Linked DNA regions of Homo sapiens: region 2 is linked to region 1. Evidence: fine-mapped expression QTL. A gene starts in region 1. The other region holds a variant in brackets. All regions are shown on one strand. Distances are from middle to middle.

Region 1 (15,638 bases):
CTTTTTTGCCCAATTCCTTTGGTGCCCTTCTCCTCCTGTGCCACAGTTGTCCTCATCCCATCAGACCTGGGTCACACCTTCCCTCTTTCCTCTCCCAGCCTTCCCTCTTCCCTGACATTTTAGCTTTCCCTTCTAATGGTGGAGTTCTATTGTCAAAGTTTGTCCCTTTATTTTCCATATATCCTGGTTCTGCCTCAGCTACCATATTTGCAGATGATTCTCTGTTGCCAGCGCCAGCAGGAGGAGCAGGTAATGAAATTGAATGATCATATGCTTGAACCCACTCCTTTTCAGTCCCCATTTCACCTTCACAGCCTCAGGGAACTTGAAAAGACTGCGCGGTCACAAATCGGGATACACAAACACAAACACCTTGCTGAGCTCTCTGGCCTCCCCTTCCTCTCTCCTCCTCCCCTCCCCAACACCCTCTTTATCTTTGTACCCTTCCCCAGCTGTGGAAAACATTCGGTTACCAGAATGGAAAAGATTCTTGGGGCAGCATCTGGAGCCTGAGGCCTCAGACTGCCTCTCATACCTGCCTGAAATGGGCTCACAGATGTGATGTGTGGTAGGGGTGGGGATCTGTGGGGCGATGCAAGTGGCCTCTTGAGAGCTCCATTATAGGTGGCTGGAGCTAGAATAAGGGCTTCCTTCCTCAAAGACAGCTTTCCAAATTGAGGCATTAATGGGGATCAATGGAAATGAAATTGCCTTGTGATCACCCATCTCCAAGAGCAGGGGAGAGAGGGGGTAGTGTGAGAATGTAGAATTGAAAATGAGTAGAACTCACTCACTACCTTGTCTCTAAAGGTATCTTGCCCTCTTCATCTTTTCCCTATTTAAAAGTCAAAAATGCCTTCCTGCTTGTAAGAAAGGGGCTTTAGCAGCTATGCAGACCAAATTTTCTATGGTTCTAATAGTAGTGAGGGGAATGGGAGAGCAAGACAGTTTGCACATCTCCACCTGAAGATGTTACAAATTTGTACCACTAACTAGACACCTTTTTCCTCCTCATGATCCTCCCATTCCCCTGCAGACGGGCAGCGGGCAACGTAGCCAGACCAGCTCCATCCCGCAGAAGCCCCAGACCAACAAGTCTGCCTACAACAGCTACAGCTGGGGGGCCAACTGAGGCCCTGACCCTCTTCTCCCGGTCCCATCTTCTGAGAGGGCTTCTCAGCCTGGAAACTATGGAAACAGCATCAAAGAGAAAGGAATGTGGGGGGTTTCCGCTGCCCCCCACCCCCAGCGGCCCACCCCATGCCTCAGCTTCATGTCTGTCCCATTCCTATACCATCCCCACCCTGTTGTATGTATTATAGGATTTGTATTTTCTCCTTTTTTTTCCCCCTTCCATTCCTTCTCCCCTCTTGCATTCAAGATTATGAAACTTTGCTATGGGCCCTGCACTTCCTTTGCTTCCTCCTGTTCACCCTGGTGGTGTACGGATGAGGCGGGGAGGTGGGACCCCCAAACATATATCAGCCCAACAGCCCTAAGTCTCCTTCTTTATTATTAGGAAAACAACAACAACAACAAACAAAAAAATGGCGTCATGAATATGAACAGCATTGTCAGATGAATTAGTTGAAGTGGTTTTTTTTTTGTTTTTTTTTTTTTTTTGTACTGTGTCCTCAAATTTAATGGATTAATGTGTCTTGTATATATAAAAAGAAAACCTCTACCTTCAGCCTCTGCCTATTCTTGCTCCGTCTAGGACATCCTCAATTTCGTCGATGACCAGCTTGGTGAATAAGTATTACTGTACCAACTGGGCCTCCTCTAGCAGGCCCCTGAAGGCAGTGGAATAAAATGAAATCTTCGCCCTTTAAGAACTCCTGACCTTAATGTGGTAGTAGTATCTTGTCCTTGAGGGGATTTCCTTCCCCTCACCCCTAAGACTTTCACAACCTGGTGACTGGAAAGAACCACCACAAATCTTCATTTCCTCCAGAAACTGCTACATCTACAGCCGATTTCAGGCAGTAAAGGGAGAGGGATAGAGGAGATTGGGTGGAAAATGGAGAGGATCAAGAAGGAGCTGAGACCATTTCAAAGAAAAAAAATGCTTTATAGAGTTTTAAGTATGACTTAGATGGGTCCAGGCAAATAAACTAAAAAGAAGTGAAGGCAACATGTATCGTCTGGCAGAACTAAATCTTGGAGTGGGGTGAGGGATGAAAGACTACATATTGGGTACAGTGTACACTGCTCGGGTGATGGGTGCGCTAAAGTCGCAGAAATCACTAAAGAACTCATCCATGTAACCAAACACCACCTGTACCCCAAAAACGAAATAAAAAAACAAAACCTTGGGGCCCATTCCCCCTAGGAATGGACTACTGTAGTAGTGGCTTCTTGGATGCTTCTCTGTGACATAGCTATACCCAATTCTTTGAAAAAGAATCTAGAGCAAGGTCTGGCTTGGGGATGGGGTACAGGGAGAGACAGGTCTCGGAGAGGTTTTGAACAAAACACTTTTAAAAAGGAATGAGGACAGGCGCTTTGGGAGGCTGGGTTGGGCGGATCACCTTAGGTCAGGAGTTCGAGACCAGCCTGGTCAACATGGTGAAACCCCGTTTCTACAAAAAATACAAAAGTAGCCGGGCGTGGAGGCGCATGACTGTAATCCCAGCTACTCGGGAGGCTGAGACAGGAGAGAACCTGGGAGGCGAAGGTTGCAGTGAGCCGACATGGTGCCACTGCACTCCAGCCTGGGAAACATGAGAGAAAACTCTGTCTCAAAAAAAAAAAAAAAAAAAAAAAAAAAAAGATACCAAAGGGATATTTCTTTATAACCCCCAATTTGTTCCTTCTCAGGACTCAACTAGCTTCCCTTCCCTTGCTTTCTTAAAAATCCTTTGTCTTGCTGGTTGCAGAGCCTGCTTAGAAAAAAGAATTCTATATAGTTATAACAAACTCCCTAGTAGCTAGAGAGGTGGAGGAAGTTAAGTCCATGCGTCTCTTATGTCTTGATCTCTTCTCTGGGAAATTCAATACTAGAAGGAGCTTGGAAAAGCATTTTGTTCATCCCTCTAACAGCAGACATCGCCCAGGTCAGTCAAAAAGAACGCCCGAGTAAGGAGCGAGGTGGCTTCTGCTGTGAGGCTGGCCAGCCCCGCGGGTGGGGTGGTTGAGGGACGCCCTCAAGCCGGTCCATTTGTGCGGCTGGGCTGCCCTCTGGCGGCTTTATCCGGGTGCCATCCAGAGTCAAACCCTCGAAATCGCTTTTCGTACTGAGTTGGTCTGCAGAAAGAAGAACAGATTTAGGAGGAAGGCGGTCATAGGAAACTGAAAGTGCGTCACGCCCACTCCCGTCACGGAAACTGGTCTCTGAAAGGTGGGGTAAAGATAAAGCCTTTCAAATTTGAGGAAGACCTTCGGTCCCGCCTCCATTTCACGTCCGGCTTACCGTCGTTTACGACAGTGTCAGGATCGCGGGCTTGCTTTCCGGTAGCGTGGGCTGACGCCTCGCTCAATTTCTCACAGGGCTGCGCAGGTTTCCCCCGTCTGCGAATGGACCACTGGAGGGGTTCAAAGGTTCGCGTCCCAGTACGGGAATGAGCCTCTTTGATCTCTTCCGGGGCTTTTTCGGCTTTCCTGGACCTCGGAGGTGAGAGTAGGTCCGGCTCGGACAAGGGTGGGGGTCGTCTGAGGGGAGCTTGACCCCTACGTCTTATTTTTGGAAAAACATCCTCTGTCCCACTCCTTCAACTCCTGCAGAGAGGACAGAAGTCGCAACATTGAACACTCACCCCGCCACAGTAACCAAGGCGGTCATTAAGAGGAGAAACAGCAAACTAAGCCTTTCTCCAACCTGGGGTGATGCAACAGGGACCCGGGCGGGGAAGACCGTGAGGGTCTGGGGAATAAGACAGTGAGCAAGTGAGCAGGACCTTGGGAGAGAGAGGAGGGACTGGGGCACACTGAAGAAAAACTGGGGGAAGGTGTATGAAGGGAGCTGCGAGCTGAGGTCTGACTTTGATTAAAAAAAAAAAAAAAAAAAAAGAACTGTCAGCCATTGTATTAATGTTTTGATGTGGCAGCCAGTCCTCCGACCCTCTCCCTAGCTTCCCAGACCCCTTGCTCTTGTCCCACTTTGCCACCCATGAGTTGATTTAATGGCTTAAATAGTGCTGAAATATTGGTGGCCAATCTGCCTCCACTCTCAGCCACAGAGATCCCTTTTTTGGAGGGATGACTCGAGATGAAGATGATGATGAGGAAGAAGAAGAAGAAGGGGGCTCATGGGGCCGTGGGAACCCAAGGTTCCATAGTCCTCAGCACCCCCCTGAGGAATTTGGCTTCGGCTTCAGCTTCAGCCCAGGAGGAGGGATACGTTTCCACGATAACTTCGGCTTTGATGACCTAGTACGAGATTTCAATAGCATCTTCAGCGATATGGGGGCCTGGACCTTGCCTTCCCATCCTCCTGGTGTGTGGCTTTCCCTAAGGGGCAACCTGTGGTTTCTGGTGGGTTGGTGGGTGAAATAAAGAGCCTGCAGGGAGTAGCTGGGGGATGGGAAGTGTGAGAAGACTGATGATTTCAGAGAGATTAATAGAGCCCAAGTCCTTTCCCATCCCAGCAAACACCTGCCACCTTTCTGCAGAACTTCCAGGTCCTGAGTCAGAGACACCTGGTGAGAGACTACGGGAGGGACAGACACTTCGGGACTCAATGCTTAAGTATCCAGATAGTCACCAGCCCAGGATCTTTGGGGGGGTCTTGGAGAGTGATGCAAGAAGTGAATCCCCCCAACCAGCACCAGACTGGGGCTCCCAGAGGCCATTTCATAGGGTGAGTATCCCATCTGGTCCTGAAGTGAGAGCTTGTGAGAGACCACTAATAAAGTGCAAAGACTGGCTAGGTGCGGTGGCTCACGCCTGTAATCCCAGCACTTTGGGAGGCCGAGGTGGGCAGATCACCAGAGGTCAGGAGTTGGAGACCAGCCTGGTCAACATGGTGAAACCCCGTGTCTACTAAAAATACAAAAAATTAGCCGGGCATGGTGGCAGGTGCCTGTAATGCCAGCTACTCAGGAGGCTGAGGCAGGAGAATTGGTTGAACCCAGGAGGTGGAGACTCCATCTCAAAAATTGTTTGAGACCCAGCCTTGCTCTGTTGCCCAGGCTGTAGTGCCGTGGCACAATCTCAGCTCACTGCAACCTCCAATTCCCAGGTTCAAGTGATTCTCCTGCCTCAGCCTCCTGAGTAGCTGGGATTACAGTCGCCTGCCAAACGCCCAGCTAATTTTTGTGTTTTTAGTAGAGATGGCGTTTCACCGTGTTGGCCAGGCTGCTTTTGAGCTCCTGACCTCAGGTGATCCACCCACCTCGGCCTCCCAAAGTGCTGGAATTACAAGTGTGAGCCATCATGCCTGGCCAAAGATTGCAATTCTTGTTTGAATCTGATAGCCTTGGGTTGGAATCCTAAGCCCTCCATTTAGTGTTTTCTGTTTTCTATATTAAGCTTGTGGGATTTTCTTTGGGGGGAGATGGGTGTTCTGTTTCTTTTAAAAAACAAAAACAAAAAAACACCACTGGTCTAGATAATTCTTGGATAAGGCAGGATTGTGCACAGAGGATAGGAATATATCAGTTCAGGAAGTCTTTCTGGTAGAAGGATACATAAAACAGCCAGGAAGGAGTGTGTAAATAAGGCTATTCTGAATGGAATTATCTCTTCTGTGGAAGGGGGTTTTGGAGCTCGGGAGTAGTTTGAGGTCTATGACCTTTCAAATTTCAGATTGGAAGGAGTCTTTTCACTTACTATGGTTTCTTCTGCAGTTTGATGATGTATGGCCTATGGACCCCCATCCTAGAACCAGAGAGGACAATGGTAAGTCTGGAGGAAGGGGAAGTTTACCAGCCTTTTGTTATTCTTCTGAAGTTCTGTGTGTTCTCCCTCCCTGAAGTTTCTTCCTGTACACTTGTCTCCTTTTTTCCTTTGGACTCTTTCTCTCCTGCTTCTTCATCTCTCTGCTCTTCCAGATCTTGATTCCCAGGTTTCCCAGGAGGGTCTTGGCCCGGTTCTACAGCCCCAGCCCAAATCCTATTTCAAGAGCATCTCTGTGACCAAGATCACTAAACCAGATGGGGTGAGTTGAAAGAAAGAGGTAAAGGAAAGTATGGCCAGGGAACGAATGCCCTGAAACAGGGATCTGTGTAAAGAAACTGCTGAGCATAACCTTTAGTAACATTCGGAATATGGTGGGGACTTCTCTTTGTAGATAGTGGAGGAGCGCCGGACTGTGGTGGACAGTGAGGGCCGGACAGAGACTACAGTAACCCGACACGAAGCAGATAGCAGTCCTAGGGGTGGTAAGTTAAAAGACAAAGGGGTTCATCTCAAGATTCCTTGGGGAAGGGAAATCTTACTCTTCTACCCTTGTCCTTTGCTTCTGCCTAGTCTCTTTCATTTAGCCTATTTACGTGTATGACTTTCTTCCTTAGATCCAGAATCACCAAGACCTCCAGCCCTGGATGATGCCTTTTCCATCCTGGACTTATTCCTGGGACGTTGGTTCCGGTCCCGGTAGCCTTGTTAACCCTCAGAGGCCTTCAAGTCCTTTCCACCTCTCACCCATTGCCCACCATTAATAAGCTTAGCTTCTCTTGCCACCTCAGGGGCTTGGATATGTGGAATAGTGAACTGGGGCCATGTCAGTTTGTCACTCACCCAAACTGACCAATAAAACCTTTATTTATGCTAATTTTTTGTCTTGGTTTTGTCAAGGCTATTTCAGTTTCTAGAACCATCCAACACTTCCGAAATTATCTTGGTCCTCTGCCTTCTCCTTATTCCTTAATTTTTTATTCTGCATCTAAAACCTGATTTCATAAGTAAGGGTCAGGCACAAGTAGAAAATGATTTTTCTTTCTCAAGCAAGAAAAAAAAAAAAAGAGGCCGGGCTCGTTGGCTCATGCCTGTAATCCCAGCACTTTGGGAGGCTGAGACAGGCAGATAACCTGAGGTCAGGAGTTCAAGACCAGCCTGGCCAATGTGGTGAAACTCTGTCTCTACTAAAAATACAAAAATTAGCTGGGCATGGTGGCGGGTGCCTGTAATCCCAGGCTAGGGCAGGAGAATCGCTTGAACCTGGTAGGAGGAGGTTGCAATGAGCCGAGATCACGCCATTGCACTCCAGCGTGGGCGACAAGAGTGAAACTCCATCTCAAAAAAAAAAAAAAAAAAAAAAAAGAAAAGAAAAGAAAAAGAAAAATGATTTTTCTTACTGAGGAGATGACTAGAAATAATTTCAGGAAAATTTCTAGAGAGGGATACATCAGATTCCCAAAAAAAGGGTGTGGGTGTGGAAGTAGGGGTTAACTGCTTCCCTGAGTGTGGGATCACTGACTGGAGAGTTCATGAAGTAACTGGGGAAGCACATGGGTAAATTTCCCTTACTTTACTGGCCTTAAAAAGTTGTTATGTGGCTGGGTGTGGTGGCTCACGCCTGTAATCCCAGCACTTTGGGAGGCCGAGGCAGATGGATCACATGAAGTCAGGAGTTCGAGATTAGCCTGACCAATACGGTGAAACCCTGTCTCTACTAAAAATACAAAAATTAGCCAGATGTGGTGGCACATGTTTGTAATCCCAGCTACTTGGGAGGCTGAGGTAGGAGAATTGCTGGAACTCAGGAGGTGGAGGTTGCAGTGAGCCATGATCATGCCATTGCACTCCAGCTTGAGCAACAAGAACGAAATTCCATCTCAAAAAATTGTTATGTATGTTAGAGAAAATACACCTGGCACAAACGTTACTAGGTCCTTTTTTCTTTTTGAGGCAGGGTCTCATTCTGTCACACAGGCTGGAGTGTAGGGGGCGATGTTGGCCCACTGTAGCCTCGACCTGGGCTCAGTCCTCCCACCTCAGCCTCCTGAGTAGCTGGGACTACAGGCGTACACCACCATGCCTAGCTAATTTTTTTTCTCGTTTTTTTTCCTTTTATTATTATTATTATTTTGTATTTTTTGTAGAGACGGAGTTTTGCCATGTTGCCCAGGCTTCCTTTTCTCATTATAAAAGTTTTTAACCAGGTGTGTTAGACTGTACCTATCATCCTAGCTACTTGGGAGGCTGAGATAGGAGGATTACTTGAGCCCAGGAGGCGGAGGCAACATAGCAAGATCCTATTTCTAAAATATATATATATATATATATATATTTTTTTTTTTTTTTTTTTTTTTGAGATGGACTCTCGCTTTGTCACCCAGGCTGGAGTGCAGTGGCGCAATCTCGGCTCACTGCAACCTCTGCCTCCCGCGTTCAAGTGATTCTCCTGCCTCAGCCTCCCGAGTAGCTGGGACTACAGGCACGTGCTACCACGCCCAGCTAATTTTTGTATTTTTAGTAGAGACAGGGTTTCACCATGTTGGCCAAGCTGGTCTCGATCTCTTGACCTTGTGATCCGCCTGCCTCAGCCTCCCAAAGTGCTGGGATTACAGGCGTAAGCCACCACGCCCCGCAAAATATTTTTTAAAAATTGGCTGAGCAGGCTGGGCATCGTTGCTCACACCTATAATCCCAGCACTTTGGGAGGCTGAGGCGGGTGGATCACTTGAGGTCAGGAGTTCAAGCAGGCTGGGCACTGTGGTTCACACTTGTAATCCCAACACTTTGGGAGGCCAAGGTGGGCAGATCACTTGACGTCAGGAGTTCGAGACCAGCCTGGCCAACATGGTGAAACCCCAACTCTACTAAAAATACAAAAATCAGCTGGGTGTGGTAGTGCACACTTGTAATCCCAGCTACTTAGGAGGCTGAGGCGGGAGGATCATTTGAACCCAGGGGGTGGAAGTTGCAGTGAGCTGAGATTGTGCTGCTGCACTCCAGCCTGGTTGACAGAGCGAGACTCCATCTCAAAAAACATAAATAAATAAATTAGCTGAGCATGGTGGCCCACATCTGTAGTCTCAGCTATTCAGGAGGCTAAAACAGGAGGATCCCTGGAGGCTGGAGTTCGAGGCTGCGGTGATCTATGATCACACCACTGCATTCCAGCCTGGGCGACAGAGTGAGACCCAATCACAACAACAAAAGCTTTTAGTACTGTGGTTAAGAGGGGCAAATCTGGGGCCAGTCACAGTGGCTCACACCTGTAATCTCAGCACTTTGGGAAGCTGAGCGGAGAGGATCAATTGAGACCAGCCTGGGCAACATAGGGAAACCCTGTCTCTACAAAAAAATTTAAAAATTAGCTGGGCATGGTGGTGCATGCCTGTAGTCCCAGCTACTCAGGGGTCTGAGGTGGGACGTTGTCGAGCCCATGAGGTCAAGGATGCAGTGAGCCATGACCATGCTGCTGCACTCCAGCCTGGGCAACAAAGTGAGACTGTCTCAAAAAAAAAGGCCGAGAGTGGTGGCTCGCGCCTGTAATCCCAGTACTTTGGGAGGCCAAGATGGGCGGATAACTTGCTGTCTCTGCTAAAAATACAAAAATTAGCCAGGCAAGGTAGTACGGGCCTGTAATCTCAGCTACTCGGAAGGCTGAGGCATGAGAATCACTTGAACCCGGGAGGCAGAGGTTGCAGTGAGCCGAGATTGCACCATACACTCCAGCCTGGGTAACAGAGCAAGACTCCGTCTCAAAATATAAAATAAAAAATAAATATTTAAAAAAAAAAAGAGTGGTGGCCGGGCATGGTGGCTCACGCCTGTAATCCCAGCACTTTGGGAGGCTGAGGCGGGTGGATAGCCTGAGGTGAGGAGTTCGAGGCCAGCCTGGCCAATATAGTGAAATCCCGTCTCTACTAAAAATACAAAAAATTAGCTGGGTGTGGGGGTGGGCGCCTGTAATCCCAGCTACTAGGGAGGCTAAGGCAGGAGACCCTCTTGAACCCAGGAGGTGGAGGTTGCAGTGAGCAGAGATTGTGCCACTGCACTTCAGCCTGGGCGACAAAAGTGAAATTCCATCTCAAAAAAAAAAAAAGAGAGTGGTAAATCTGACATATTTATTTACTTCTGTTTCCTCTGGAAATCCCACTAAATTATGACAAAGGGATTTCTCTAAAGAGGTATATCACAAGAACAAAGGACAGGAGATGATAGTAATGAAGCTCTGTCTTTTAATTCTCTATTGTATCTTTTGGTGAACAGAAGTTGATTTATTGTAGCCTAATTTATCTTTATAAGTTTGTGTTTTACGTTTAGGTTTTTAGACCTACCTGGAATTTTTGTTTGTATATGGTATTAATTTGGGTCCAATTTGGAAAAAATATGCACAAATATATAAATATTTCTTTTTAAAAAACAAGGTTGGGCACTGTGTCTCCCGCTGGTAATTCCAGCACTTTGGGAGGGATAGGTGGGAGGACTGCTTGAGCACAGGAGTTTAAGACCAGCCTGGGCAACAAAGTGAGACCCCCCCACCATCTGTACAAAATAAAAATTAAAAAATTAGTGGGGCATGGTGGCATGTGCCTGTAATCCCAGCCACTGGGGAGGCTAGGGCAGGAGAATCACTTGAGCCCAGGAGTTTGAGGCTGCAGTGAGCCATGATCACGCCACTGCACTCCAGGGTGTCAGAGCAAGACCCTATCTCAAAAAATAAATAGGCTGGGTGCGGTGGCTCATGCCTGTAATCCCAGCACTTTCGGAGGCCAAGGCGGGGGGATCACGAGGTCAGGAGTTCAAGACCAGCCTGACCAACATGGCGAAACCTCGTCTCTACTAAAAATACAAAAATTAGCCAGGTGTGGTGGCGCATACCTGTAATCCCAGCTACTCAGGAGGCTGAGGCAGGAGAATCGCTTGAACCCAGGAGGCAGAGGTTGCAGTAAGCAGAGATCATGCCACTGCACTCCAGCCTGGGCGAGAGGTGAGACTCTGCCTCAAAAATAAATAAATAAATAAATAAGTAAATAAATAAATAGGCCGGGTACGGTGGGTCACGCCTGTAATCTCAGCACTTTGGGAGGCTGAGGCAGGTGGATTACCTGAGGTCAGGAGTTCAAAACCAGCCTGGCTAGCACAGTGAAACCCCATCTCTACTAAAAATACAAAATTAGCCGGGCATGGTGGTGGGCACCTGTAATCCCAGGTAAAAATAAATAAATAACTAAAACAGCCCCAAAACAATAGCAACAACAACACACACACATGCACACACACAACTGTGCTGGGTCTTTCTATTCTATTAGTCTATTTGTCTATATTTGTGCCCATATCATACCTTAAAATACTATAGTTTTATTTAGTAAAACCAGTCTTCCTACCTTTTTATTATTTTTTAACCCTTCTATTGTATAAAAATACAATTGTTTTTTCTAATCAGCTTTTTAGAGTACCATCACAAATATAAATGGAGCTAAAAATCACCAGATATGTGAAGAAAGCATTTAACATGAGTGGTAGAGACAAACGAAACAACTTGAAAGAAACAGAGACTATGCAGAGAGATTAAAAACTTTAAATGTACACAATTTTTTTTTTAGATGGAGTCTTGCTCTGTTTCCCAGGCTGGAGGGCAGTGGTACAATCTCATCTCACTGCAACCTCCACCTGTAAGTGGAGGCTCAGGCGATTCTCCTGCCTGAGCCTCCCGAGTAGCTGGGACTACAGGCTCAAGCCACCACACCCGGCAATTTGTTTTTTTTTTTTTTTGAGACAGTCTCACTCTGTTGCCCAAGCTGGAGTGTAATGGCACGATCTTGGCTCACTGCAACCTTCGCCTCCCGAGTTCAAGTCATTCTCCTGCCTCAGCTTCTCAAGTAGCTGGGATTACAGGTGCATACCACCACGCCTGGCTAATTTTTGTATTTTTAGTAGAGACGGGGTTTCACCATGTTGGCCAGGCTCTTGAATTCCTGACCTCAGATGCCCGCCTCGGCCTCCCAAAATGTTGGAATAACAGGCATGTGCTACTGCGCCCAGCCTACATTTCTGAGTTTTTAATGGAGACAGGCTTTCACCATGTTGGCCAGGCTGGTCTTGAACTCCTGACCTCAAGTAATCCACCCACCTTGGCCTCCCAAAGTGCTGGGATTACAGGCATGAGCCACTGCACCTAGCCTATTGATTCATATTTCTAAGCACTATAAAGATGTATGTACTTGGCCGGGTGCAGTGGCTCATGCCTGTAATCCCAACAGTTTGGAAGGCTGAAGGGAGAGAATGGCTTTAGCCCAGGAGTTGGAGACAGTCTGGGCAACATAGTGAGACCCGTCTCTACAAAAAATTAAAGATTAGCCAGGCAGGGTGGTGCACACTGTAGTCCCTGCTACTGGGAAGGCTGAGGTAGGAGGATCGCTTGAGTCCAGGAGTTCAAAACTGCAATGAGCTATGATTGTGCCACTGCACTCCAGCCTGGGTGACAGAGTGAGACTCTGTCTCTAAAAACAGAAATAAAACCCACAAATGTGATAGAGTTCAACTCTCCAAAGTTGAACTCTCCACAAAGTAAACAAAATAACTGATCAAAAAATAAGAGAAAAAAGGCTGGACGCAGTGACTCACGCCTATAATCCCAGCACTTTGGGAGGCCGCGGCGGGCGGATCATGAGATCAGGAGATCGAGACCATCCTGTATAACACGGCGAAACCCCATCTCTACTAAATATACAAAAAATTAGCTGGGCGTGGGGGCGAGTGCCTGTAGTCCCAGCTACTTGGGAGGCTGAAGCAGGAGAATGGCGTGAACCCAGGAGGTGGAGTTTGCAGTGAACCGAGATCACGCCACTGCACTCCAGCCTGGGAGAGAGAGTGAGACTCCATCTCAAAAAAAAAAAAAAAGAAAAAAGAAAAGAAAAGAAAGAAAAACATAAAACTAGAACGGCATAAATTATCAATGAAATAAGTCATGAAAATATTCCAGAATTGAAGAATATTACTTAATTTTTTTTGAGACAGAATCTCACTCTGTCACCCAGATTGGAGTGCAGTGGCACAATCATAGCTCATTGCAGCCTCGAATTCCTGGGCTCAAGCAATCCTCCTGCCTCAGCCTGAGTGGCTGGGACTATAGGTGTGCACCACCACACCCGACTAATTTTTGTTTTTTGTTTTTTGTTTTGTTTTGTTTTGTTTTGTTTTTGGTAGAGACGGTGGTCTTGCCATGTTGCCCTGGCTGGTCTCCAACTCCTGGGCTGAAGTTATCCTCCCACCTCGACCTCTCAAAGTGCTGGAATTACAGGAAAGAGCCACTGTGCCCGGCCTGAAGGATATTACTTTCTAACCTGAAAGGACTTGCCACATGCCAGACACCAAGGGTGAAAATAAACCCACTCTAAGGCATGCCATATGAAATTTTAGAACACTGGAGACAACAGAGTTTAAAAGATTCTAGAGGGAGAGAGAAAGAAAAATGGGGCACATGTTCTCAGGATCTCCTGAGGGCTGTGTCAGTGGATAACAAAATAACCTAAAGGATCAAGAATCATAATATTCTCAAACTTTATCAGCAACACAAAGTATAAGACAATGGAGATCCAGCAATCCAGCTACTAGGTATATATTCAAGGCAACTGAAATCAGTATGTTGAAGAGATACCTGCACTGCCATGTTCACTGCAGTACTGTTCACAATAGCTGAGAGTAGGAATCAACCCAAGTCTCCTGCAGTGGGTTAATGGATAAAGAAAATGTGGCATATATACACAATGCAGTACTATTCAGCCTTACAAAGGAATGAAGCCTGGCTCGGTAGCATGCTCATGTTGTCTCAGCTACTCAGGAGGCTGAGGCAGGAAGATTGCTTGAGCCAGGGAGTTCAAGGTCAGCCTGGGCAACATAGCGAGACGTCATCTCTAAAATAAAGACATTCTTTACAGAAAAAATAGAAAACAAAGAATGAGATCCTGTCATTTACAACATCGATGAACCTAGAGCACATTATGTTAAGTGAAGTAAGCCAGGCACAGAAAGACAAATACCACATGATCCCACTTATATATGGAATCTTAAAAAAACCTCATGCAGGTAGAGAGTAGAATGGTGGCTACCAGAGACTAGGGGGTGGTGAATGCTGGGGAGACATTGGTCAATGGATACCAAATTTCAGTTGGACAGGAGGAATAAGTTCAAGAGATCTATTGTACATCATGGTGACTACAGTTAATAACAATGTAGTTGGCTGGGCACAGTGGCTCATGCCTGTAATTCCAACACTTTGGGAGGCCAAGGCAGGAGGATCACCTGAGGTCAGGAGTTTGAAACCAGCCTGGCCAACAAGGTGAAACCCCATCTCTACAAAAAAATACAAAAATTAGCCAGGCGTGGTGGCACGTGCCTGTAATCCCAGCTACTCGGGAGGTTGAGGCAGGAGAATCACTTGAACCCGGGAGTCGGAGGTTGCAGTGAGCCGAGATTGCAACACTGCACTCCAGCCTGGGTGACAGAGCGAGACTCCGTCTCAAAAAAAAAATAAAAATAAAAATAAATAAATAAATAAATAAATAAATAAATAAATAAAATAAAAATAAAAAGTACTTGTCTACATTGGGAAGATGGAGGAACCAATGCATATATTTGTTGTGGGCAGTGCAATATGTAACTAAATCCTTATCTTCCATACTGTAAACACAATAATTAGTTTCTTTTTTTCTTTTTTTTTTTGAGATGCAGTCTCATGCTCTGTCCCCCAGGCTGGAGTGCAGTGGCACAATCTTGGCTCACTGCAAGCTCTGCCTCCCAGGTTCATGCCATTCTCCTGCCTCAGCCTCCCGGGTAGCTGGGACTACAGGCACCCGCCACCACGCCTGGCTAATTTTTTGTATTTTTAGTAGAGACAGGGTTTCACCATGTTAGCCAGGATGGTCTCGATCTCCTGACCTCGTGATCCGCCCGCCTCGGCCTCCCAAAGTGCTGGGATTACAGGCGTGAGCCACTGCGCCCGGCCAATAGTTAGTTTCTAAAACAAAAAGTAAGTATCACTGTAAGCATATTTAGGTATATAATGGTAAATATTAAAGAAAATATTTTAAAAGTTGGTAATGGTTGGCCAGGGCTGGTGGCTCACGCCTGTAATCCCAGCACTTTGGGAGGCCAAGGCAGATGGATCACCTGAGGCCAGGAGTTCAAGACCAGTCTGGCCAACATGAAGAAACCCCATCTCTACTAAAAATACAAAAATTAGCTGGGTGTGGTGGTGCACACCTGGAGTCCCAGTTATTCAGGAGGCTGAGGCACGAGAATCAATTGAACCCAGGAAATGGAGGTTGCAGTGAGCCGAGATCACACCACTGCACTTCAGCCCAGGCCACCGAAGGAGACTCTGTCTCAAAAAAAAAAAAAAAAAGTTGGTAATAGTTGCCTCTGGGGATTGGAAAAGGATGGACCATATTGACACTGAAGTCAGGAAGCTGCTATTTTTCATGTGTTGTAGAATTATTTGACTTTGTCCTGGTACAGTGGCTCATGATTATAATCCCAGCCCTTTTAGAGCCCTGTCTAAACAAAAAATATTAGCTGGGCGTGGTGGCATATGCCTGTAGTTCCAGCTACTGGGGAGGCTGAAGCAAGAGGATCACTTGATCCCAGGAGACTGAGGCTGCAGTGAGCTATTACTAGACCACTGTACTGCAGCCTGGATGACAGAGCAAGATCCTATCCCCCCCTCCAAAAAAAAAGAAAAAAAGAAAGAAATAAAAAAACAGAAAAGAAAAATGTTTAATTATTTCACTCTTGATATATCCATG
Region 2 (8,000 bases), 990 kb after region 1:
CTCCACGCCCCTGCCGCAGCAGTGGCGGTAGCGGTAGCCCTCAGAGTCCACTTCACTCGCCTCAGTTCGCCCCGCTTCTCTGTGCACGGATTGGTTCCACCGACCGGAAGGGCCACAAGGATCCCCGCAGCAGCCGTGGGTTGCGCCTGCGTCTTGTCCAAAAGCTAAGACGAAAGTGCCCCCACGTGATACCTCTAACCCAGTGCCCACAACCAACTACCGCCCCTCTTCCATGTGACTTCCTTCCACTAACGAACTACACTTCCCAGCAGGCCTCGCGTAGGAATCCGGCCTTCCTAGTCTCCCGAGATGGACGACGGGAGCCTTCTGACCGGTCGTGGCAATCCCCCCTAGGAGCCAGGTTGAGCACGTTTTCAACCTGAGTTTCTGGCTCTATACTGGGCCGCGGCCTAATGACTCTAGGAGTCAGATCTTTCCCAACTCTCATAATTCCACATCCGAGAAGTGCCACCTCATAACACTTCTCTGTTTTAATCTGAAAGAAATGCTGCCCCACCCATCACTACCCTCCCATATGATAAGGTGGACAGGGGAAATAAACTGGTAGCCTGGCTGTGCTTCATTTTGGAGGGTAAGGAGGACTCCCTTCATACCCAAACTCAGAAAGTTTGCCAATAGTTTCATCCCTCCACCCCAGCATTCCCAAACCTCCAACTCCAGGGATGGGGGTCAAATGAAGCACGTTATTTTATTTCACAAAGACTGTACAAAATTCCTTATAAAACATGGGGTAGATGCCACCTGGTTACCTCACTCGGCCCCCATCCAACTCCGTATGAGGGGGCAGGTGAGGGTGGAAACTGTGTGGATGGAATAGTATTATGTACAAGGCAGGGGTTGAAGTGATAGGTACAAGTTCTTTCATATTTACACTATTTCACATATTCACAGGTATATAGAGAGCCAGGAGGAAGGAGTGAACTCTGGCTCGTTCTCTTGTATAAAAAAGCACCAGTGTCCTGGACTGGACACCCACTGCTATAAAAGATGCAGGGGGGCCCAGGGCCTGATCGTCACCGACTGATATCCCGACTGGAGTCCCACAACTTGTTGGGCGGCTCAGCCCGAAGGCGGGCGAAGAAAGGATGCTGAAGGGCTTCACCCAAGGTCAGCCGCTTAGCTGGTTCATACTCTAGCATGCTTTCAATCAGATCGAAGAGCTGGTGGTGTTCCTCTGCCTCTGAGGTCAGATACCGCTGGTGGAGGAGGGCAGGAAAAAGGTGAGGCAGGATGCCTTACAAACCCTGCCTTCTTCAAGACCCTACCTTTCATTCTTGGAGAACCAAGGCTCTGCTTGCAACCAATTTGAAGGCTACCTAACCACGACCACACCAGGACCAACGTTTCTGATATTATAGCTCAACCTACCTTCCCACTAGCACAATTACTCCATAATCTTTGAAAGTTCTTTCTACTTGTATATCCTTGTCAACTTCATGAATCTTCTTTAGTTCCTCATTAAAATGTAAGCTCTTCAAAGGTAGTTTATTCTTTTCTGTCTGACCTAAAGAATCCAGGACATTGCTTTGATCTCTGGTTGTCTCAAGGTTAGGCTGTCTAACCTCCTTCCCTCCACAAAACCACTCCCTCTTATGTTTCCTCTGTTGACCAAAGATGTCTTCTTTCAGCTTTCCTCCCCTCCTTTCCTAACCCTCTGCTTGTGAAGAGCATTCCAGGGGGCAAACCACCCTAAGAAGGAAGTGACTTCTGGACGGTGGGCACTATTTATCCCGAGCCCAGCTCACCCGCAGCGGTTTGCAGTTCTCACGAACATAGCGCCCAGCTGATGTGTTCTCATCCCAATCCAGGCGACCCCGGTAAAAATATTTCTGCTTTCTAGAGGGGAAGGGGAGGTTGAGGAATCAGAAGGTCACCCTTGTTACAATTCCCTTATTTCCCCATCTGAAAGTAACTGGGGGGAGAGGAGGTATCAAAGAAAAAAGAAAATGATGTGAAATAGACCAATTCTGTGGAGAGAAAAGGAAAAGAGTTAACTAGTGCCCCCTCAAGGTTCACCTTGTCTTTCGGATCATCCGGGAAGGGATAGGACCCAAGATCCTTTCCATCATGGCTAGATGCTCTCTGTTGTCATGGGTCTGGGAAACAAAAACAGAACTGAGCATGGGACTGAAAAGGGCATGCTAAGGATCAGCTGCCAGGAAGGCAGGCAATGTGGAGAACTGAGTAGGCAGGTCCTCAGCAGAAAACAAAGGAACCAGGTAGAAGAATGCCAGGCAGTCAAGTAAGACATCCCATCACTTACCTGGAAGAGGGTGAATCCCACATAGTATTCAAAGATGATGCAGCCTATACTCCACACATCACAAGGCTGTGACCAGCCCAACTCTGGGTGAGAATGGGAGGGAAAAGGTGTTATGAGGCTTAGGTGGCCCCACCCTCACATCATCTCACACACTTGGACAGCCTTGCCCTCCCTTACCAAGGATGACTTCTGGTGCTCGGTAATGGCGAGTGGAGACAATGGTGCTATGGTGCTCATGGTCAAAGGTGGCACTGCCAAAGTCTACCACCCGCACAGCTGTGCTCTTCACACTGCGCTCATCTCGCTTCTAGGAGCAGAGGAGAAAGAGGATGAACCTCTGCACCCAGACTGAGATTCCACCAGTATTCTCTACATTGCTTCTGAGCCTTAAAAAAGGTACTGTGATCTCCTGCCTGGCCTTACAAGCCCTGGGAAATTCCTGTTTTACAGCTTCCACCACATCCAGCATAATACTTTTAGAAGTAGGGGAGCAAAAGGATTAAGAAATGATTATAGAACAGCGTGCACATCTGTAAGCATCTGAAGACTACACTCAAGTGCCAGATATATAGTTATTCTGAAAACATGTAACATGTAGCAAATGGGTTTTTCTGAAAAAATGTAACATGTAGCAAATGGGTTTTTCTGAAAAAATGTAACATGTAGCAAAGGAGTTTCTCTAAAAATATGTAACATGTAGCAAAGGGGTCAAAGGAGGGAGAGCTTCTTTAGGTCTGAGATCTCCATTATCTCCAGTTAGTCAAAGGAGCCGAGCTTTCCTACCTCACAGAAATACACATCTCAAAAAAGAAGTCCGGGCCAGGCACTGTGGCTCACACCCGTAATCCCAGCATTCTGGGAGCCCGAGACAGGCAGATCACCTGAGGTTAGGGGTTCGAGACCAGCCTGGCCAACATGGCAAAACCCCATCTCTACTAAAAACACAAAAACTAGCCAGGCGTGGTGGCGGGTGCCTGTAATCCCAGCTACTCCAGAGGCTGAGGCAGGAGAATCACTTAAACCTGGGAGGTAGAGGTTGCAGTGAGCCGAGATTATGCCACTGCACATCAGTCTGGGCAACAGAGTGAGACTCTGTCTCAAATAAATAAATAAATAAATAAATAAATAAATAAATAAAGTCCAAACCAAGAACCTTAAAAACTTTCACTCTACTGGAAAGTTATCTGAAGTCCCCTGTACAAGTTATCTCCCAATTTAAGTCTTCTTAAGAGATTTCTCCCTTTCAACCTATTTAGTTTTACCCAGTTGGAGCCAGACAGGGAGAAAATGTGGGAGGACGAAATAAAAGGGAGAAAACAAAGGGCTCGGCAGAAGGCAAAGTGGTGCAGCTGCCTGCCCCCAGTAACCAAGGGCAGACCCTATCCATCTTACCTTCTCTAGGTTGTAGGTGAGCTCATAGTCTGAATTCACAAACAGAATATTTTCAGGCTTGAGGTCTGTATGTGTCAGCTTGTTATCATGGAGGACTGTAGGGGAGAAGGCCAGGTCAGGCTTGGTGCAGGTGGCCAGAGCTAACTGGTATCAGCTGACCCCAGGCCTGGTTACCTAGGGCAAAGCCAGTGAGGAGACAGGTCCAGAATCACTAGGGCTGCTTTCTGCTCTACGTCTAAATGGAATGCCTGGTCTAAGAAGCTCTGCTCTTTCTAATGTAAGATACATATGTAGCTCAACTGATGTAAAAAAAAAAAAGTTTGCTTTGAGTTGTAGTGTGTACACACTTTGACATGTGTCTAGCTGGCATTATGTTAACTCAATTCTGTGAAACTGTATTATTTTGATGACTCCAGAGGAATGATATATTTCTTTGAATTCCCCACCTTGCCCCTTAGCTGAACTACATACTCTGTGTTCCCATCTCCTTTGCTGTGAATGAACATCTCATCCCAGACAAATGTAAGCCTTTACCCTAAGGAGTGTATTTTTGTCTCTTTATGTTTGCTGTCTGACTGATGCTTTCCCAAGAAAGGGAGAAAGGAAAAGGGGAGGGTAATTAAGTGCTTTGATTCCAAAGGCTTTCTCTTCTAGCTGCTGCTAGGCTAGGTGTAGAGTAAGAGCAATCAGTGACGATAAAGACATCAGTCAAGGAGTTAAGTCAGAAGACGTTTCAAGATGACAGTAAATCAAAGAACTGCAGATAACAGACAGCTGACTGTTTAGGGGCTTCACCAGTGCACAACCGACAGAGAGATCCAATGAAGGGAGGGACTGCCCCAGAGTCCACTTCGGCCCACCCCACTCACACTTGACAGCCTGGCACAGCTGGAAGGCCATGTGGCGCACTTGGTGGATGGGGTAGGGCAGGTAGTTGTTGTCTTTGAGGAAATCGAAGGTGCTAAGGCCCAGAAGCTCAAAGGAGATACACATGTGGCCATGGTAGTCAAACCAGTCAAACATCTGGACACAGAGGCTGAGAAGAGAGATGGGGGAAGGGGGGTTGTCTGATGAGCTCCCATCTGCCCATCAGCCATCCAACAAGGAGGTACTTCATAGCTGTTGATTCCACATACTTGTGTAAAACCATGCCAGCTAGTACTAACACCAAAATTCAGTTCA[G/A]CTAAGGAGTAGCCTCTACCAGACCCAAGAAGAATGGTACTATCTGCCAGGTTTTTTTCTTTTTTGTTTTTGAGATGGCGTCTCACTCTGTCACCCAGGCTGGAGTGCAGTGGCGCGATCTTGGCTCACTGCAACCTCTGCCTCCTGTTCAAGCGATTCTCCTGCCTCAGCCTTCCAAGTAGCTGGGACTACAGTTGTCCACCACCATGCCCGGCTAATTTTTTTATTTTTAGTACAGACGGGGTTTCACCATATTGGCCAGGCTGGTCTCGAACTCCTGACATTGTGATCCACCCGCCTCGGCCTCCAAAGTGCTGGGATTACAGGCGTGAGCCACCATGCCCAGCCCAAGTTTCAAAATATCTTCCTGCGTCATTTTAAATAGTTCAAAAACTATTTGCTGAAGAGCTGTGGAGTGCCAAGCTCCAAACAGTATAGATCCTGAATCATCAAACTGTCCATCCTAAATCCCAACCCCAGCCCAACTCCTGATATTCATTCACCACTAGCTACCACTGGGCTCCTATTTATACCTACTGGCCTCATATCTTGGCTTAAAGTCCTTATTCTATTTTTGGACTGTGAATGTATGTGAACAAAATATTACTGCATAAATGTCTGTGGCCTTATCAGCATAGTTCTACTTATAAAAGCTTAATTCATTGTTCGATGAGGTTGATGCTCAGTCCTAGGGCTATGTCCAGGGTATATCTCTACAGAAGCCATTCTAGGCTGGGGTCAAACGACAGAGCAATCTAACTTCCCTGAAAACAAGGGGAGTGGATTAAGGAATGTCATGGGCCCCCCCCCTTTCCTACCCTGATGTTCTACTACTCTAAGATGATGAACAAAAGATGAATGGATGAGAAGGTCTAGGACTCCCCTGTCTGCCTAAACCAGGTCTAGAAGTCTCTCCCGTGTAGGGGTTGGGGCTCTCAGCCTCCCTACATACTTCCTTGCTTGCTTACTTCTTGTTGTCAGGGTCTTTCTCATTGATTTTCTCTAGCACGTTGATCTCAAGTCGAGCTGCTTCCTTGTACTTCTCCACATTCTTAATGATCTTCAGGGCAACTCGAGCCCCACCCCTGTAAGTTGGCAGGAGAGGCTTTTGCTGGGTTCTCAAGAATGTCTCAAAATGAACAGGGCTGTAGGGGGACTAAGAAATTCTACCTCAGGTTAATTAGCAAAAAAGCCCCATATAACCCCAACCATCTCTTTAGCCCCACATAGTAGGGAGGGACTGACAGTTACCTGCGATGGTCAACACATTGTACAACTCGGCCGAAGGTCCCCTCTCCTAAGGTGCTAACGATTTCATCTGAAATGAAAGAGAGCAGGGTCGGGGAGAGGGAGGGAGAGAAGGTGGGGAATGAGCTGAGTTGGAAGAAAAAAGGGGACAGCAACCTGGGGTGGAGATGAAGGAAGGGGAACAGATACAGATGGTCACAGGGGAAGAAAACCCCTGCGTGATTCCCACCACCTTTAACCCAGGGGCCGTGAGAGCTGGGAGTGGACAACAGAGGTCAATTCTCAACAGCAACTCAAACCACCCAGATAAACAACACCACTGAGAAAAGGCAAGAGGCTGTGACTCAGGTTGGCTTGGGACGTTAGGATGGCTATGGGACCATTACAGGCTATAGGATTGTTACGATTTGGCTTGTACATCGCTCTTGTAGCCAGTCCCCGACGTGGTAGATGAGGTGGCCCTCAGCGTCGTCCTCTACACTCTTGGCTCTCCGGCTGCTGTGCTGCTGTCGGGGGGCAGGGGGGGTCGGAGCAAGCCAGGTGTCGGAGCGGGGGCCGGAGGGAGGCGGGGTGGGTGGTAGAGGGGTCACCGGTCACAGGCGCCCAGCCAGGGGGGACAGACGATGATGGGGGACAGTGGAAGGGAACACGTCAGATGCAGTAAGGTGGATCGGTGTGAGAAGAGAGAGCGGCGCATAATCCCAAGTCCCCAAACCCAAAACAGGAACAGGGAGAGGCATGGGCAGAGCAGAGAAGTGGTGTTGTTGCCAATGTCACCCACAACCCCATGCTCTACACAATGCCCTTCCGGGCAGACACAGATCTCCCCTTGCCCCCACCCAAGCCCGCCTGCCAAGGGGGCTACAGAGCCCAGGGCTTGGGGGAAAAAGGCAGTTCACAAGCAAGGTCCCCATTAAAGAGTGGAGGCCGCTGGGGCGGAGAAGCTGCTCCCAACACAATAAGCCCAACATGCCAGGGAGAGCACTGGGGGTCACAAATGCTCCGTGCCCATCCATCTCCAAAGCAGATCCAGGGCCCTTCAAGAGTCGGAGAGCTTCCAAGAAAGTAGGCAAACTCAGTGCCCACCTCAGTGTTCATGCCCCAATGTTCAGCTGAGAACAAGGATACTGCTCACTTACCAGAGTCCTAGAGGGCCTGCAGAAGAGTGGGGAGAGGAAGGGCCTGGGCTGGCACTCACCGAAGATGAGCGGCTAAATGTCCGGCTGCGCCTCCTCCGCCGTCTGTGCTTCCTCCGGCTGCTGCGCTGGCTGCGGTAACTGCTGTTCTCCCGCTGATATTCATAGGAATGCCGATAGTCTGTGTCATAGTAGGCATCTCCCCGATCCCGGCTATAATCGTTGCGTCTGTAGCTGCCACAGTATCGCCGGTCATACACCCTCCGGTCGGACGAACGATCATCATAACTGCTGTTGGATAACAAATACCAATGAGGTGTATCTGTTCAGATCACATTCCCTACCATACCCTGTGACAAGGTCCTGCCTTAGTGAGGACAAAGAGTAATGCTAGAAAACTGTTCTCAGACACTTGTTGAGTCACTGAGAGGACCAAGGGACCAGAGAAGTGAGGTAACAAGCACATCTGCCATGTCACCAAAACCTCTGAAAAGGCATCTGCAGAACCACTCCCTATTGGGGCCTTTTTCCCGCTGCAGTGATACAAAGAAACAAAGAGCCATTTTTTTCTCAAGCTTTCCTGAATGAAATCCCCCCTTGCTCTAAACCATCCTTAACCCATTCTTTCCACTGAACATACCACTAAAATATTAAAACTGGGCCGGGCACAGTGGCTCACGCCTGTAATCCCAGCACTTTGGGAGGCCAAGGCAGGTGGAGCACTTGAGGTCAGGAGTTTGAGGCCAACATGGTGAAAT

What was found.
Region 2: its variant is fine-mapped to the expression of HAX1 in sigmoid colon (GTEx, PIP 0.98).

What each region holds. Positions count from the first base shown.
Region 1 is chr1:154,269,164-154,284,801 of GRCh38, forward strand. It overlaps HAX1 (HCLS1 associated protein X-1), which reads left to right and starts at 3,466. Exons shown (of 7, transcript NM_006118.4): 1 at 3,466-3,613; 2 at 4,173-4,435; 3 at 4,611-4,798; 4 at 5,787-5,838; 5 at 5,991-6,097; 6 at 6,230-6,320; 7 at 6,453-6,712. The coding sequence starts at 3,561. The coding sequence ends at 6,538. It overlaps UBAP2L (ubiquitin associated protein 2 like), which reads left to right. Exons shown (of 27, transcript NM_014847.4): 27 at 1,037-1,684. The coding sequence ends at 1,132. RefSeq lists a silencer at 3,082-3,222 and an enhancer at 3,360-3,529.
Region 2 is chr1:155,262,184-155,270,183 of GRCh38, forward strand. It overlaps SCAMP3 (secretory carrier membrane protein 3), which reads right to left and starts at 177. Exons shown (of 9, transcript NM_005698.4): 1 at 1-177. CLK2 (CDC like kinase 2) reads right to left here. Exons shown (of 13, transcript NM_001294338.2): 3 at 7,305-7,533; 4 at 6,525-6,612; 5 at 6,110-6,176; 6 at 5,827-5,943; 7 at 4,546-4,712; 8 at 3,677-3,771; 9 at 2,462-2,591; 10 at 2,285-2,367; 11 at 2,038-2,117; 12 at 1,767-1,857; 13 at 685-1,217. The coding sequence ends at 1,035. The variant G/A (reference allele first, on the strand shown) is at 4,859.